Linked DNA regions of Homo sapiens: region 2 is linked to region 1. The links come from fine-mapping of genetic effects on gene expression. Tissue or cell type: monocytes after LPS. Region 1 holds a variant in brackets; the other region holds the start of a gene. All regions are shown on one strand. Distances are between the middles of the regions.

Evidence for each region. PIP is the estimated chance that this variant, and not a neighbour inherited with it, causes the effect.
Region 2: FZD6 starts here. The variant in region 1 is fine-mapped to the expression of FZD6 in monocytes after LPS (Fairfax 2014, PIP 0.90).

Annotation. Positions count from the first base shown.
Region 1 is chr8:103,122,863-103,130,967 of GRCh38, reverse strand. All of the region lies in intron 1 of LINC01181 (long intergenic non-protein coding RNA 1181), which reads right to left. Among named protein-coding and RNA genes, the nearest start is that of LINC01181, 5.9 kb to the right of the region's middle. The variant G/C (reference allele first, on the strand shown) is at 4,304.
Region 2 is chr8:103,295,122-103,303,226 of GRCh38, reverse strand. It overlaps FZD6 (frizzled class receptor 6), which reads right to left and starts at 4,329. Exons shown (of 7, transcript NM_003506.4): 1 at 4,232-4,329; 2 at 2,943-3,271. The coding sequence starts at 3,119. LOC105369147 (a long non-coding RNA gene) reads left to right here and starts at 4,409. Exons shown (of 2, transcript NR_148216.1): 1 at 4,409-4,878. RefSeq lists enhancers at 3,849-3,898, 3,752-4,252, 4,253-4,753 and silencers at 3,892-4,186, 4,049-4,298, 4,419-4,588, 4,599-4,648.

The DNA of each region.
Region 1 (8,105 bases):
GGGAGCCCAGAGAAAAAGCAGGGAAATCAGTTTGGAGATTGTTACAATAGTCAAGGCAAGAGATAATAGTGATTCATACACTAAGGCAGTGGCAGTGATGATGGAGAAAATGGATAGATTCAAGACACATTCTGGAGGTAGAGTAAGAAGCCTTGCTGATATTTTAAATGTCAGAAGTAAGGAAGAGGGAGAAAACAAGAATGACTTTCCAGTTTCTGCTTGTATATCTAGGTAGGTGAGGAAGACTTAATGAGGAATAAATTTGGAGAAAAAAAAATCAGGATGTCTGTTTTGGATATTTTGAGTTAAACATGCCTGGGAGACAAGTAGGCAATTAGATAGAGAAGATGAAGAATCAAAAGAAGATCAGTGTTGGAGCCATGAACAAAGTGTGCAATTTCCTAAGGAGAAAGTGGTAGACATAGAGAGAGAGAAAGAGGATGGCCTGAGATCACGCTTTGAGGAAACCCCTCTTTAGAGGACTGGCAGAGGAAAATGAACTTGAGAAGTAAGCTGGGGAGGAGAAATCAAAGAAGCAGAAAACAAACCCAAAAAGGTATAGTGTCACAAAAGCCCAGAGAAGAGCACCTGTCAGGAAGAAAGCATTCAATTTTGACTAAGGCTCCTGAGTGTTTGTGTGAGTCAAGGATGAAAAACAGCCCATTGTTGGGAACATGAACATCACTGGTGAATTTGGTAAAAGTGGCAGTGGAGGGGTAGCTTCACAGCCAGAGCAAGTGGGTTAATGAGTAGATGGGAACACATGCATGTAATTTTACTTGTTTCTCAAGCCAAACACGCACACACACAAACACTAAAGTGATTATCTTTAACATAAACCCATGAGGATGGTAAGACGGGGAGAGGACAAAAATGCCACAGTATTTTGAAAGCTGGAAACCATTTGGAGAAGTTTTAGCTAATTTAGTGGGCTGAAGAAGGTGGAATCCTATGTCAGTAGTGAGGAAACTTAAAACCAACACCATTTGCACCTCAAATTTTTCAAAGTCTCAGGAGTTAGTGGCACCGGAAACTTTAAAAATAGAGGTAGGGCAAGTGGGTGGGAATTGGCATTAAAATAAGGAGAATTAGTTGAAAGCAATTTAAAAAGGAATTATATTTGCAGACCCCTACCATACTCTTAATAGATGCCCTTCCCCATCCTGGCAGAAGACTGGATTCATTCTCTGGAAAAGATCAAACAATGAGTCTCTTGACTGGAATATCAAATAGGACAATTAAGAGACTGTATGCTTACCTGTGCTGAGACTTTCAGGCTTCTTTCCCTCCTCACCTGCCAGAGCACACGTAGGAAAGATTCTCTTGGAAAACCAACCAATCCAGAGAAAACACCTAACGATACATCAGGGCTGCCCAAGGAAATAGTCAAGCCAGATTGCCCTACTGTGAAGCTCATAGTGGGTAAGTTCCACTCAGGTGAACAAAGCTTCAAATCAGCTTTTTTGGTTTCCACAGTCAAGGATAAGCAGACAGCAGGTATTAAAAGATATCTGAAGAAAGACTCTAATGCAAAAGAGCTACTTGGAAAAAAATGGGAACTATATAAGAGGAAGAAAACGTCAAGAAAACTGTATTTAATGTCCTCAGAGAGATCAGAGGAGATGTTACAACCCTAAAAAAAGAAAAGAATACAAATAAAATAGAACCTTTAGAGAACAATCAACAACCACAAAAAGCCCTTGGTAATTAAATATATGATGGAAGAAGTGAAAAACTTAGTAGAGAGCTAGAAAAACGAAACTGAGGCATGAAAAGGCCAAAAAAAAAAAAAAAAACAGAATATAGAAAAGAAAATTAGAGGATCAGTCTAGGAGATCCAGCACCCAAATAATAGGGATTCCAGAAAGAGATAAGAGAGCACAGAAGGGAAGAAATCACCAATGAAATAATTCAAGAAATTTTTCTAGAATTAAACTGTCAAAACGGATTAAACGTACCCCAAAGAATGCCATCATAAATTTTCAGAAACCTGGGGACAAAGAGAAGATCCTACAAGCTTCCAAGAGAAAAATGTGTCACATACATAAGATTAAGAATCAGAATGCCAGATAGGAATGGTGACAAGTGTCTATCATCCCAGCTACTTGGAAAGCTACGGTGGGAGGATCCCTTGAGCCTAGGAGTTCAAATCCAACCTGGGTAGCATAGCAAGACCCTGTATCTAAAAATAAAAAACAGAAGTTTTAAAAGAATCAGAATGTCTTTGGAATTCTCAATCACAAGACTAGAGGCTAGAATACAGTGGACTGTAGCCTTCAAAATTCTGAATAAATTATTTTAAGCCTAGATTTTTTATTCCTAGCCATCAATTAAGTGAAAAGTCAAAATAAAGGCATTTATATTTGCAAGGTCTCAAAAATTTTACCTCACATGCACTTCTGAAGAAGTAACTAGAAGACGCATTCCACCAAAACAGGAAAGAAAAGTTTGGAGCCAGGACCCAGGCAAAAGATGAAGGGAATCCCTAGACTGATGAAAAGACCTCCAAAGAAACTGTTCTATTCATAATAACAAAGACATAGGATCAACCTAAATGCCCATCAACGGCAGCTCGAATACAGAAAATGTGGTACATACACACCATTAAATGCAGCCATTTTAAAGAGTGAGATCATGTCCTTTGCAGTAACATGGATGGGGCTGGAGGCCACTATCCTTTGCAAACTAACACAGGAACAGAAAACCAAATATCATATGTTCTCACTTATAAGTATGAGCTAAATGATAAGAATTCATGGACACAAAGAGGGTAGCAACAGACACGGGGGTCTACCTGAGGGTGGAGAGTGGGAGGAGGGAGAGGAGCAGAAAAAATAACTATCAGGTACTAGGCTTAGTATTTGGGTGACTAAATAATCTGTACACCAGACTTCCATGACACAAGTTTACCCATATAACAAATCTGCACATGTACCCCTGAACCTAAAATAAAAGTTAAAAGAAAAAGAAAACACAACAAAACAAAACAGTGCTACACCAGGTCTTGAGGGTGGTTTGGAGACAATCCAAATTGGAGAAAGTCAGAGGTTTTGGAAGGGATTCTTCAAGAGGACAAAACTAATAGCATAAATCTAGACGTTTTGAGCAGAAAGATAAATTATGGCAGTTTGAAGTTGGACTGGTAATAAGTAGAAAACTAAGCAAATAAAAAATTATTCCCAAGGAAAATTAAAAGTTGTGTAAGGAAGAAAAAGTAGTCTAAGCTTACTAGATGACTCTGCTCTCGATATCACTATATAATCAAAATAAAGTAAACATGGATTACTGAACCAAGGAAAGTTAAGATGTAACCATGCAGGAATGGTAGGAGGTGGAAAGAATGTATGTGCATGCTGTGGGAAGGGGAAAGAATGAGAGCTAAATCCTCCTCCTCTGTAGGGGCAGTCAATAGCTACTGCTCACAATTGAGGGATCATTAAGTAGCCCAATACTAGCATTTTATTCAGAAACACAGAGCTAAATGCCAAAAAGAAAAAGCAGCTACAAGAGTTGTAAGTAGTTGTCTCTGATGGGGAAAGCAGAGGACTGTTGGTTTTCATAACAAGTCTTATAGAACTCTTGAGTCTTTAAAATATGTGCAAATAACCTTGCTAAAAATAGAAACCAAGTAAAAGCAAAGGCAAATGGAGAGTGAAAAAGGGAAAGTGGCAGCTATAGACATATATTTTGAGAGATCTGGTTCCTAAGAGGAATAGAAAAGTGAATTAGGGTAGGTGGGGTCAAGGGTGGGTTTTGTTTTGTTTTGTTTTGTTTTGTTTTGTTTTGTTTTAAGACAGGGTCTTGCTCTGTCAGCCAGGCTGGAGTGCAGTAGTATGATCATGGCTCACTATAGCTTTGACCACCTGGGCTGAAGTGATCCTCCCACCTCAGCCTCCCAAGCACCTGGAAGCAGTAAGCAAGCAGAGAGGAGCAGAACTACCCTAAGAGTAAATTATGGTAGATGTGCCACGATCGAGATCCTCACTCTTGGGCCAGCAGCGAGGGGGAGAGGCCGAAACTAAGACCTTCATTAAACCAGAACTCATTAGGAGCTCTAAATGGTTCCAAGCTGGCAGTGACCCCTGGCTCTCTGGGTGCCACCATGCCCAGCTAATTTTTTATTTTTTGTAAAGATGGGGTTTCACCATGTTGCCCAGGTTGGTCTTGAACTCCTGGGCTCAAGTGATCCTCCTGTCTCAGCCTCCCAAAGTCTTGGGATTACAGGTGTGAACCACCAAACCTGGCCAAGGGTGGGTTTTTTAAAGATGGGAAAATGTGGGATGGGAACTGTCTCCCTGCGAGG[G/C]AGTTGATGGTGCAGCAGAGGGAGGATTCCAATGGAGCAGGGTCCTTGAGAAGATGAAGGGGACGGGATCTAGAACCCACTGTGTGGGGTGGGCTTTGATGCAACAGAGACACCTCCTTTACTGGACAAAAGGGAAGAAAAAGGTAGGTGGAGACACGAGTGGAATTATAGAATTTCTCATGGCCATGCTTGTCTTATCAGGCCTCAAGACACCCAGAATAGAACATAATATAATACACCAGTAATTCTGTGAGAAGTAACACACAAACTACACCCAGACACGTGTTCCTTCAACCTTCCTACAGTGCAGAATGATAAAACTGCATATGTTTGATGAATAATTCCCTCACAATAGATGTATTACCATTTTGTCTCATAGAAATAAGAACATCTGCATTAAAAAAAAAAAGACTTCCACTGATAACATCTCAGACCAAATATTCTCATAGGCCCTTGATATGGTTTGGCTGTGTCCCCACCTAAATCTCATCTTGAATTGTAATCCCATAATCCCCACATATGAGACCCGGTGGGAGGTAATTGAATCATGGAGGCGGTTACCCTCATGCTGTTCTCCTGACAGTGAGTGAGTTCTCACAAGATCTGATGGTTTTATAAGGAACTTTTCCCCCTTTTGCTCGGCACTTCTCCTTGCTGCCGCCATGTGAAGAAGGATGTGCTTGTTTCCCCTTCCACCAGGATTATAAGTTTCCTGAGGCTTCCTCAGCCCTGTGGAGCTATGAGTCAATTACACTTCTCTCCTTTATACATTACCCAGTCTCAGGTATGTCCTTATTAGTAGCATGAGAACGGACTAATACAGCTCTCCTTCTGCAAAACAATTACATCCTAGATAAAACATAGATGAGATGGGCTTGTAGGAGATAGAGGATGTTGCCAAGGGACTCCTCCACATGAAATGGAGCAAACTATAAGTAGAAATTAGAGCTGGAAGCAGTGAGCAAGCAGGGAGGAGCAGAACTACCCTAAGAGCAAATGATCCAGATCCTCACTCTTGGGCCAGCAATGAGGAGGGGAGGCCAAACCTAAGACCTTCATTAAACCAGAACTCACGAGGAGCTCTAAATGGTTCCAAGCTGGCAGTGACCCATGGCTCTCAGAAGAAGCAGATGCAAATCTTCCCTAAAGAGAGCACCCCCAACCTAAGCCGAGAAGACTCCCACAGATGAAGATCTAATAAATACACAGTCAGAGATCAGCAGGCCCAGGAGGGGCAATACCACCATGAGTGAGAGTCGGCAGACACATTTTAAAGAAAAGATGGGAAAAGCAAATCACGAATGAAATAAAAGACCCATCTGTGGCTTTGAATATCACCTGAATAGTTACTAGAATGCACATATCTCGGTCCCATTCCAGACCTACTGAGCCTGGGAATGTCTTAATGCTCATTCCCCACAGAGAGGAAGCCAGACAGCTCGTTGCACAGACCCTATTTTCCTTTCCACAATCATCTTCCTATAGCTTTTGCTATCCTTGCAGGGAGATGTAAGTGCAGCAGGCACATCTATTCAAAGGCAAAAATAAAACTAAGAAAATAGCTAAACAAGACAGCACCCCCTAGTGCCGGGAAGGTAGGAACCAACTTGGCTTGGGTGCTCCCTGTCTCCTGCAGAGCAGAGCACGACCCTAGACTGTCCAGTCCACGAGCCCTGGAGGCATCACTATGCGGGAATGAAATGTTGGTCACACTTCAGTGACTACAATGCACAAAATACTGTGATTGAAGATAATGGGAAATGGGCACCGTAATAATAACGAATGTTTTAATTAATAGCTTAAGGTAAACTGTGTTCACCGGGAATCTAGAAGTGCTTATGTAATCCATAGAAAACTTTGCAGTGGGGACCAAGAAGGGGCTAGGAAAAGAACTCTTTTTAAAGAAAGAGAGCGTCAGGCATGGGCTGGGTCCAAAGACAATGAGCCCATTCCAAATAGAAGAGATAATTTTGAGTACAGTAGAGGCTGGTTTTAATTTACCTGGCCCAACCTCAATGGCCCTTATCTTATGGAGAGCACCCAACAGAAAAAGGAAAACTGCAAACAAAGGATAGCACTGCTTTGCAGTTTTGTAGCTTAAGGAGCATGCTATTAGGCTAAGAGGAAAATGGGAAATGGAAAATGCCTTGTGTGAAAACCAGTAACAACAGCCAAGTGTGGTGGCACACAGCTGTAATCTGAGCACTTTGGGAGGCTGAGGCAGGCGGATTACTTGAGGTCTGGAGTTCAAGACCAGCCTGGCCAACACGGTGAAACCCCGTCTCTACTAAAAAATACAAAAATCAGCTGGGCGCGGTGGCACACGCCTGTAGTCCCAGCTACTCTGGAGGCTGAGGCAACAGAATCGCTTGAACCCGAGAGGCGGAGTCTGCAGTGAGCCAAGATTGTGCCACTGCACTCCAGCCTGGGCAACAGAGTGAGACTCCGTCTCAAAAAAAAAAAAAAAATGAAAAAAAGAAAGAAAGAAAACAAAACAACAACAATAACCAATCAGCCCTATCAGGCAGGTATTATTCCTGTGATTATGTTACAGATGAGCAAAATGACTTCAGAGAGGTTGAGTAACTTGCTCAACTTTACCCAGCAATAAATTGTGGAGGCAAGCCTGTGATTATGTTACAGATGAGCAAAATGAGTTCAGAGAGGTTGAGTAACTTGCTCAACTTTACCCAGCAATAAATTGTGGGGGCAAGCCCAAGCATAGGACTTGCTCAACTTTATAGGTCATGTTCTTAATAGATGTTTTTCTGATTTGATTGTTTAAAGAGGTGACTGAATTTCATGATTCAAGATTTAGGAAAATTATTACACAATGCTTAGTGAAAATTTCTTCTCCTATCACTGCCCCCAGGCCCCCAGCTTCCCTCCTCATAGGCAACCAGCGTCATTAGATGAGGTGTAATATTCTAGAGATATTTTCTGAGTTTCATTTTGCTACACCATTCTGAAGCTCACATTTTTCACCTAGGAAAATATCTTGCAGATCACTCCTTATCAGTACACAAAGAGCTTCCTTGTTCTGTTTTCCAGCTGCAGGATTTCATCGTGTGCGGAGGTGCCATGATCTTGCTCACCAGTCCCCAGTCAATAGACATTAGCCCCATTTCCATTCTTCACTGTAGCTGATGCTCTTTATTCTGAGAAAACTCCACTCCCTCCTGAGAGATCGTGAGAGTCTCCCGTGACAATTAGCCTCCTCTAAGCCACAAGACATGGCCACGTTCTCAAGTTACTTTAACAAATGGAGTGCATTGTGAGACACACAAGAACACAGACCAAAAAAAAGAAACTGGGAAGCAGCCTGACAAAGGCAGGTGGAGAGTAGCCCCACCCTGGGCACCAGGCACCTCTGCCCATTTCCTGCCACCACCCATGGCTGTGAGGGGCTCCATGAGCCACCCAGACACTGTCACCATGTCTCCCATCCTGCCAGTTGCTGGGCTTTGGCAACTAATCAGCCTGCATCTAAAAGCAAGGTCATTTTAAGAGGGTCTCTGTGACTCTGGCCTCGCTTGCTGAGTCCAAATGTCCATACAGGAGAGGGGCAGGATCTCTATCACATGGCCCCCTTGCTACCAGTGGAGGGTGTCCAGGTTCTTGGGGTCTTGAACAAAGAACTGGACAAAGTTACAAACAAAGGAAGGAAAGAATGAAGCAACAAAAGCAGAGATTTATTGAAAATGAGGTGGGAGTGGCCCCGAGCATAGGGGCTCAAGAGCCCTGTTACAGAATTTTCTGGGGTTTAAATACCCTCTAGAGGTTTCCATTGGTTACTTGGTGT
Region 2 (8,105 bases), 170 kb before region 1:
TAGGTCAGTTGGCTGAAGCAGAGTGTGCAATGTGGGAAGGTACAAGATGAGAGACTGGACAAGCAGCCAGGGTCCCACATGAAGGGCCTGGAGTGCTCTAGAACCAGGTCTTTTTTTCCCCAGCTTTAGGGAAAATGATGAAGGATTTTAACCCTAAAGTGGACTGCACAAATTTGAATTATAATAAAATCATTGTGGCACCACTAGAGAGACTGAAGATTAGGGAGTTAACTTTTGCTTTGTTTTTGTTGTTTTCATTTTGTTTTGTTGAGTTGAAGTCTCACTCTGTTGCCCAGACTGGAGTGCAGTGGAACGATCATAGCTCACTGCAGCCTCCAACTCTTGGGCTTAAGTGATCCTCCCACCTCAGCCTCCAGAGTAGATGGGACTACAGGTGTGCGCCACAGAGATTTTATTTTTGGTCTAACAAGACTTTGTATTCAAGGCACTTGTAAGAAGGAAAAAGAGAGACAGAGCTAAACAGAGGTAAAACAATCACCCAGTTTAATTTTTATCTAAATGAAGTTTGCAAATAAGTAGCAAAGTCTGAAATTTACACATTGCATTCTAAATCATAAGAAATATTATCTTGTTTATCCAATCAGGACAAGGGCCTAAAAAAAAACCAGTTAAAGATGACATTATGGTCCATGTAGACAGAGAAGACTATCAGATTAGAGTGCTCAAAGGGACAAATCGCAGCTTTTCTGGGTTTCAGTTTCTTCATCTGTATAATGAAGGGTTCGGGGGTTCTTTACCTGAGCTATATTTCAATATAATTTGTTTTCTTTGTAATCCTACACATTTTATTTATTTAAATATTAAAACTTCTCTTATCTTGAGAAGGGGTTAATGTCATAAAAAAGGTTAAGAAGCTCTATATGATCTTTAGGGTCACTTACAACTCTCAACTTATAGGATTTTGGACATTCAAATACAGGAACTAAAAGAGAATACTACTGTATATGGATAAATAGGAAAGGGGCAGTAGGAAAAACACAATAGTATACACTGAGAAATTACATATAGGGATTAAAAGTCTGAGCCAGGGTGACATTATTTTTGCCTTTTCATTTCTCTTTCCTTTCTTCTATAGACTTAGGTTAATGCTGGTATTGTGACTGCTTGATGGCTCTCTTCTTTTGTATCCTTAAATTTACTGAAGTATGATTTATAGCAAAAAAAAAAACTTCATTAGTAAAGGCTATGAGAAAGGTTAGTTATAAGTGGAAAATTATATAATGAAGAGATTGGTAGTATTAGCAATCATATAAAAGAGGTAAGAACAAAAAGCCTTCTTGATAATATCCAGGCACAAAACTACTTGGGAAAGAAGCTAGGTAAATTAAAAAGTAATTTTTTTGAAAGTAAAAAAAATTTGGTTTTAAAAAGACGTGCAGAACAAAGCTAGTTGCTACCATCTTATAATTACAGGCATTTAATAGCAGGGATGCATCTCTCTTGAGTCTAGGTGATATGAATTTATAAGGTCACTGTTAGCATTCAAACTTAAAATGGTCAGCCAGGTGCAGTAGCTCGCGCCTGTAATCCTAGCACTTTGGGATGCTGAGGCAGGACGGATCACTTGAGCCTAGGAGTTTGAGACCAGCCTGGGCAACATAGTAAGACCCCATCTCTAAAAGAAAAAACAAAAACCTTAAAATGTATGTAGTTACCACATACAAAGGAAATTAGATTTAAAAAATTTAGGAACACTATTAAAACATGAACACTACAAAACATATTATCATCAGCAAAAAAGTGAATGAATGATGTAATTATTGCTTCACAGTGTTCTCACTATATACTTCATATTGAATCAGATTGAACCATCAAAATGGTTCTGATTCATGAAAGTCTCAGTGCATCATTTGTTCAGTTCAAAAGGACATCTAGCATCAGTTTGAAAAAAACCACTGAAAGATAACAATAATATAATCTGTACTATCCTTTTAAATAACATCTACTTAGTATTTATAAGCTTTCCTATTCCAGACATGAGTCCACAATGAGGCAGTCAGACAACTATTCAACTGAACAACAATAGAAAACTTTCAAAGCTGCAAAATCAAATCTAATCAATTTTAAAAATAGTATATATATTAAATTTGTAGGGATTTCCTCTCTTAGCAACAATCTGAGGGAAAAAAGCCTTTACTATTCTGTTTTTCTGGAGAAAAACTACAAAAACAATGCATGTGTCTAGTTTCCTTCAGGAGACTTAACAACCTAACAAATCTGTATGGGAAGGCAGGTTCCTGTCTGTACAGGTAGCTTTCTTCTCACACTCCCTAGTAATTTGCATATCTCTAAACCAGAGACAGGTAACTAAGGCACCTAAGGCAATCTTTAGTGTCACTGTACTCCTCCCAAGTGGTTTCTTTTAACAAGTATCTTATAAAGAACATATAAGTGCTATGCTTAGAAAACAAAGTCACTTTTTAGTGACTTTGTGATAGCCTTAAAATACAGTCTACAGCAACAAAATATTCTGATAATTTATTTATTTCAGAAAAACTGTACCAAGTGAATATTACAACTACTTATAAAAACTTGTAAATTTCTTCAGTTTTAGTCCAGGCAATAAATATTACATGTTCAGTGAAGTAGAAAAATATTCAGAATTCGCATTTCTAGAAGAACTATCATACTTGATTCAGGAAAGCAAAATATTTTCTAGGTACAAGGTATTTAGAAATCATGTGTAACCATACTTCATTATATAAAATGAACCCTATTCAAACGAATCTACTAAACAGGGCCGCAAAGGTACACAAAACATAAGTCAGTAGAGGGATTTAATTTTCAAAAGGACTTTTCAAAACACAACTTGTACACAACTTGAAGAAATCGGCTCTGTTTAAAAATAGACTTATTTTTACTAGTTTATTCTAGAACAGAGCATAAACTACTATTCAATAAACGTATGAAGCACTACTCACCTCCATTTCCACCGCGGCAATACTCTGGTCATAATGACCCATCAGATTAGGGAAAAACGTCATGTTGTAGGCCATTTTCATACATCTGGGAACAGTAATTGGTTCACAGGTGAAGAGACTGTGCCCTCTTAGGAGGGGTAGAAAAATACACGTCAACAAAAATGTAAACATTTCCATTTTCTTCAAATTCCTGATTTTACCACATGGCTTGGATGAATCACTCTTTGCATCCTCAGAAGATCCCCATCCAAAGATAAAATGTTCAAATTCCTCATTTCACTATTTTACTCATTTTCAGGCTTTCCTGAAAATGAGTCCTGGGTCAATTACTGTAAAAACAAAAGGAGGGTGTATCAGCAACATTTGTCATAAACTCAAATGTGGAGTCAAAGTGCAGAGTTAAGATTTTCACCCCAGGTAACAAACACTGGAAAAACAACGGAAAATTCTGTCCTAACGAGATACTCTTCCACCTGCCTTAGCATGGAATATATCATTTGCTAAGGAAGCTGCACCTCTAGGAAACCGATGCTAGGAGGTTGGTGCTGTATGGAAGACAGGGTTAAAAAGAGGGAATGGCAAGAGTAAGATGGAGGAAAAAAGGAAAGCTGGTGATTCGGAGTAAATTATAAAGGATTAATATAAGCATACAATCTAAGGGCCCCTGTTGGAAAGCTTATTAAGTACAAGAAAACTAAGGCCCTGGGAAATTCCTTAAGACCCAAAGAGTTCTTAAACTTGTAAAAGACTCTGAAGAGTCAGTTTTTGTGGCAGTCTTCTGGGTATGTAGTTTTCTCGATTTTCGTAAGGCCAACTAGAGGGAGACTTTTAGGATTCCTCCAGTGGAGGAGCAACATTGCAGTTTTCACTGGCTAGGAGGGTGTAGTGCTGCCGTCGAAAGGAAAGTGCGCAAATCTGTCCCGGGGGAAGGGCGAAGGCAGTCCCCTTGCGGGAGGAAGGCTGTAGGCCCCGGATTACGAATTACCCGCGCCCCAACACACACTGATGCCCGGTCCGCCAGCGCCCCACACCCGGGAACCTGCCCCAGGCCTAGAGCCAGACAGCAGCGTTCCTGGCCTGCGCGGCGCCGCGGGGCCCCGGCATCGCCTTTCAGAGCCGGTTCCCGCTTCCGAGGAAACTCAGGTGCGGGCCGTCCCGCCGTTGCCTCCCCAGCACCTGCGGCTCCCGGCGCGCCTCATCCCAGCCGCGGCCCCTCGCCCCTCGAGGCCCTCCCCGCTTCCCCCGGCACCCGCCCGGCCCCTGCCCAGTCCCAGCCGTGGAAGCCTCACCTCGGGGGGCGGTCGAAGGCCGCTGTCCCTTCCCGTCCCCGTCTAACCCACCGTTCCCCCCAGGGACCTGAGACGGCTCCGGGGTTGCGTCCGGGACTGGAGCTGCCTCGAGAGCCGCACGGGGAGCGAGAGCTGAGCGATCCCGCGAGACTGCGCCGCCAGGTCGGGCGGGCAGGTCCGGGCTCGCGGCGGCGGCGGCGGCGGCGGCGGCGGCGGCGGCGGGACTGGCCCTGCGCCCGGGCACCGCCTGCGCTGCGCCGCCCGGCCTCACTCCGCGGCCCGCCAGGACCCGGCCCCGGTGAACGGGCTCGGGGTGCCGAGGTCCGGCTGCGGGGCCGGGAAGCCACCTCCACCTTGCCGTCTGTTACGACCCCCGAGGCGCAAGGCTGAGCCCCATCTCGCTATCCGGGTCCGGAGGGGTTCACCTTAGAAGGATTTTTTGAAGCTCTTGGCGCTGGCTCTAAAAGAACCCACTTCCTTGCGGATTTCAGGAGTCAAGAATCCTTAAACGGAGCCAATTTGCTTTGTAAAGCCAATTGCCCAAGTGACTTGAGTTCGAAAGGAGATACTTCCTGGACAACTGCTATAAAAACAACAACAAATACTTTTATTAATTCGGGGAGCCTGGTCACCAACTGGATGCTCAGGTAGCAGTGGGATTCCAGCCCTGGCGGGTCCCACAGTTTTATTGATACAAACCCTAATAGGAAGTTGAACTGCTGTAGAAATCAACCTAGTTTGGGGTACCAACTCTGTCATAGATATTAGATAAATTACCCTAATCTTTAAGGGGCATAGTTTCCTCACAATATAGGAATGACAATAGTTGTAATGATGGTTAACGTTAATTGAGCACTGGCTGTAAGTCAAATAGTGCCAAGTTCGTTACAAGTGTTTACACCTAACCTGTAAGGCCCTCCTATGAAACAGGCAGAATAGTATGAGAAGCAAATGAACTTGTAGAAGTACTTTGAAAAATGCAAAGTAACTTGTAGATGGAGGCTATTCTTGTCAGATAAATCATCCTGTTGCAGAAAAGGAATGTCATATTTCCATACCTAGAAGGACAACCCTGAACAACCAGAGTAAGAGTTTTGGAATCTGTGGGGAAAGACGAATTTGGAGTGGGGAATTCCTCCCCAGTTTTATCAAAAGCTTACTGATGTTGGGAGACAGGTAGTGATGAAGAAATATTAACATCATTAAGAGCTGGATAGTTGATGTATTGCAGAATAAATTTCTATGTAGGAAGAATATTTTCCCCTAAATTTCTAATTTTCTACATTGGAAGACTATTTCTCTCCAGTTTCTACGAACTTAATGAGATCTTTTTGTGATCAGGCTCTAGTGACTACCAGGCAGTGAAGTATCACTAAAAGTATCATTTAAAAACGATACTTTTTAAAATATCGTTTGAAAACGATACTTTTAAAGTATCATTTGAAAACGATAGTTTTGAAATTCAAGTGAATACTTGTTCCATTATTTGGAAGGAAAAATTGTAGTAAGTTGATTTATACAGAAGTAAATAAAGCCTGTTTTATTTTTCATTGTATTTAATTATATAGTGAGCAGTGATGAACTAGAATGATTTTTTTTTTGTCAGGATGGATTTGGAATACTTAGGCAATCATCTATATCATCGCTTGTCTTTCACTGTACAATTTCATCCCAATGGTACGAGATTAAGAACACAAACTTTGGAGTTCAAAATCCCTGGGTTCAAAACCTAGCTCCAGCATTTACTTGCTGTGTGAACTTGAGCAAATTATTCAGATCCTCTTTAGTTTCTTCATCTGTAAATATGGAACTATCTGACGGTTTTCCTCATTTTCCTTCTCTTTCTCTTTGCATTGTTCCTCTGGGCTGATGCTAGGGGACAGTGGTGACCAAAAGTAGAAGAAACAGACTTTTACTTTTAAAGGCTAATTTTGCAAGGTACAGAATTATAGGTTGGTAGTTTTTTTCTCTGAACACTTTTACTCCACCTCTCTTCTTGTCTACGTGGTTTCTGAGAAGTTGGATGTCATTCTTTATTTTTGTTCCTCTATAGGTAAGCTCCTCATCATTAAGTATATTGTTACCTTAGGGTTTTTGTAGATGTTCTTTAGCAAGTGAGAAAGTTCCCCCTCTGTCCCTAGTTTGCTGAAAGTTTTTATGATGAAAATGTGCTGGATTTTGTCAAATGCATTTTCTGCATCTATTGATGTGGTCATGTGATTTTTCTTCTTTAGTCTATTGGTATGGTAGATTACATGAATGAATTTTCAAATATTGGACCAGCCTTGCATACCTGGGATAAATCTTGGTTATGCTGTACAATTCTTTTTATGCATTGCTGGATTCTACTAGCTAATATTTTGTTGAGGATTTTTACATCTTTGTTCAAGAGATATATTGGTTTATAGTTTTCTTTGCTAGTAATGTTTTTGTCTGGTTTTGGTATTAGGGCAATGCTGCTAGGAAGTATTCCCCCTGCTTCTATCTTCTGGAAGAGATTTTAGAGAGTTGGTCTAACATTGTTGGTGACTGACATTAATTTGGGGAAATTTTCAGTCACTATTGCTTCAAATATTTCTTCTGTTCCTTTCTCTAATTCTTCTCCTGGTATTCCTGTTACACATATGTTATACTTTTGTAGTTGTTTCACAGTTCTTGGATATTGTTTCTTTTTTTTAAGTCCTTTTTCTCTTTATTTTTCAATTTTGGAAGTTTCCATTGACATATCCTCAAACTCAGAGATTCTTTTCTCAACCATGTCCAGTCTATTAATGAATCCATCAAAGGCATGCTTCATTTCTGTTATAGAATTTTATATCTCTAGCAATTCTTATTCTTCCTTAAAATTTTCATTTCTGCTTACATTAACCGTCTGTTCTTTCAAGTTGTCTACGTTTACCTTTACAACCCTTAGTATATTAATCACAGTTATTTGAAGTTCCTGGTCTGATAATTCCAACATCTCTGCCGTATGTGAGTCTAGTTCTGATGATTGCTTTGCCTCTTCAAACTGTGTTTTTTGCTCTGTAGTGTGCCTTGTAATTTTTAGTTGAAAGCTGGACATGATGCACTGGGTGAAAGGCACTGGAGTAAATGGGCTTCAGTGATGCGGTGTTAAGATGTGGGAGGAGGGGAAACATTCTATAGACCTATGATTAGATTTCAGTCTTAGTGAGCTTGTGTCCCTAGGCTGGAAACTTCACAAGTGCTTCTTAGTTTTTATCCCCCTTCTTGGGTGGGACAGGATGTCTAGAGGGGGCTGGGGTTGGATATTTCCCATCTATCAGCTTGGTTAGGCTCTGCTAAAACTGTAATAGGTTAGGCTCTGGTAGTTTCTCTTGAGGGCAGGCCTTGTTAAAAAGAACAGAATATTTTGACATATTTCAAAATGGTTCTTTTCACCTCTCCCTGTTGGATGTAGGAGGTGATTTTTCTTTGATTTTCACTGAGAGAACCTGGAAGAACTCCTGGAGGTAAAACTTACAAAAGTGTGAGTGTGCCCTCCAAAGACTAGGCCCCCTCCCCCTTTGTGTGTGTGTGTGTGTGTGTGTGTGTGTGTGTGTTTGTGTGTGTGTGTGTCTCACTCTGTTGCCAGGCTGGAGTGCAGTGGCGTGATCTTGGCTCACTGCAACCTCCGCCTCCTGGGTTCAAATGGTTCTCCCACCTCACCCTCCCGAGTAGCTGGGATTATAGGTGCACACCACCATGCCCAGCTAATTTTTGTATTTTTAGTAGAGACGGGGTTTCACCGTATTGGCCAGGATGGTCTCTGTCTCCTGACCTCGTGATCTCCCTGCCTAGGCCTCCCAAAGTGCTGGGATTACAGGCGTGAGCCACCGTGCCCAGCTGACCCCCTGGAGTTTTAAATTCTTAG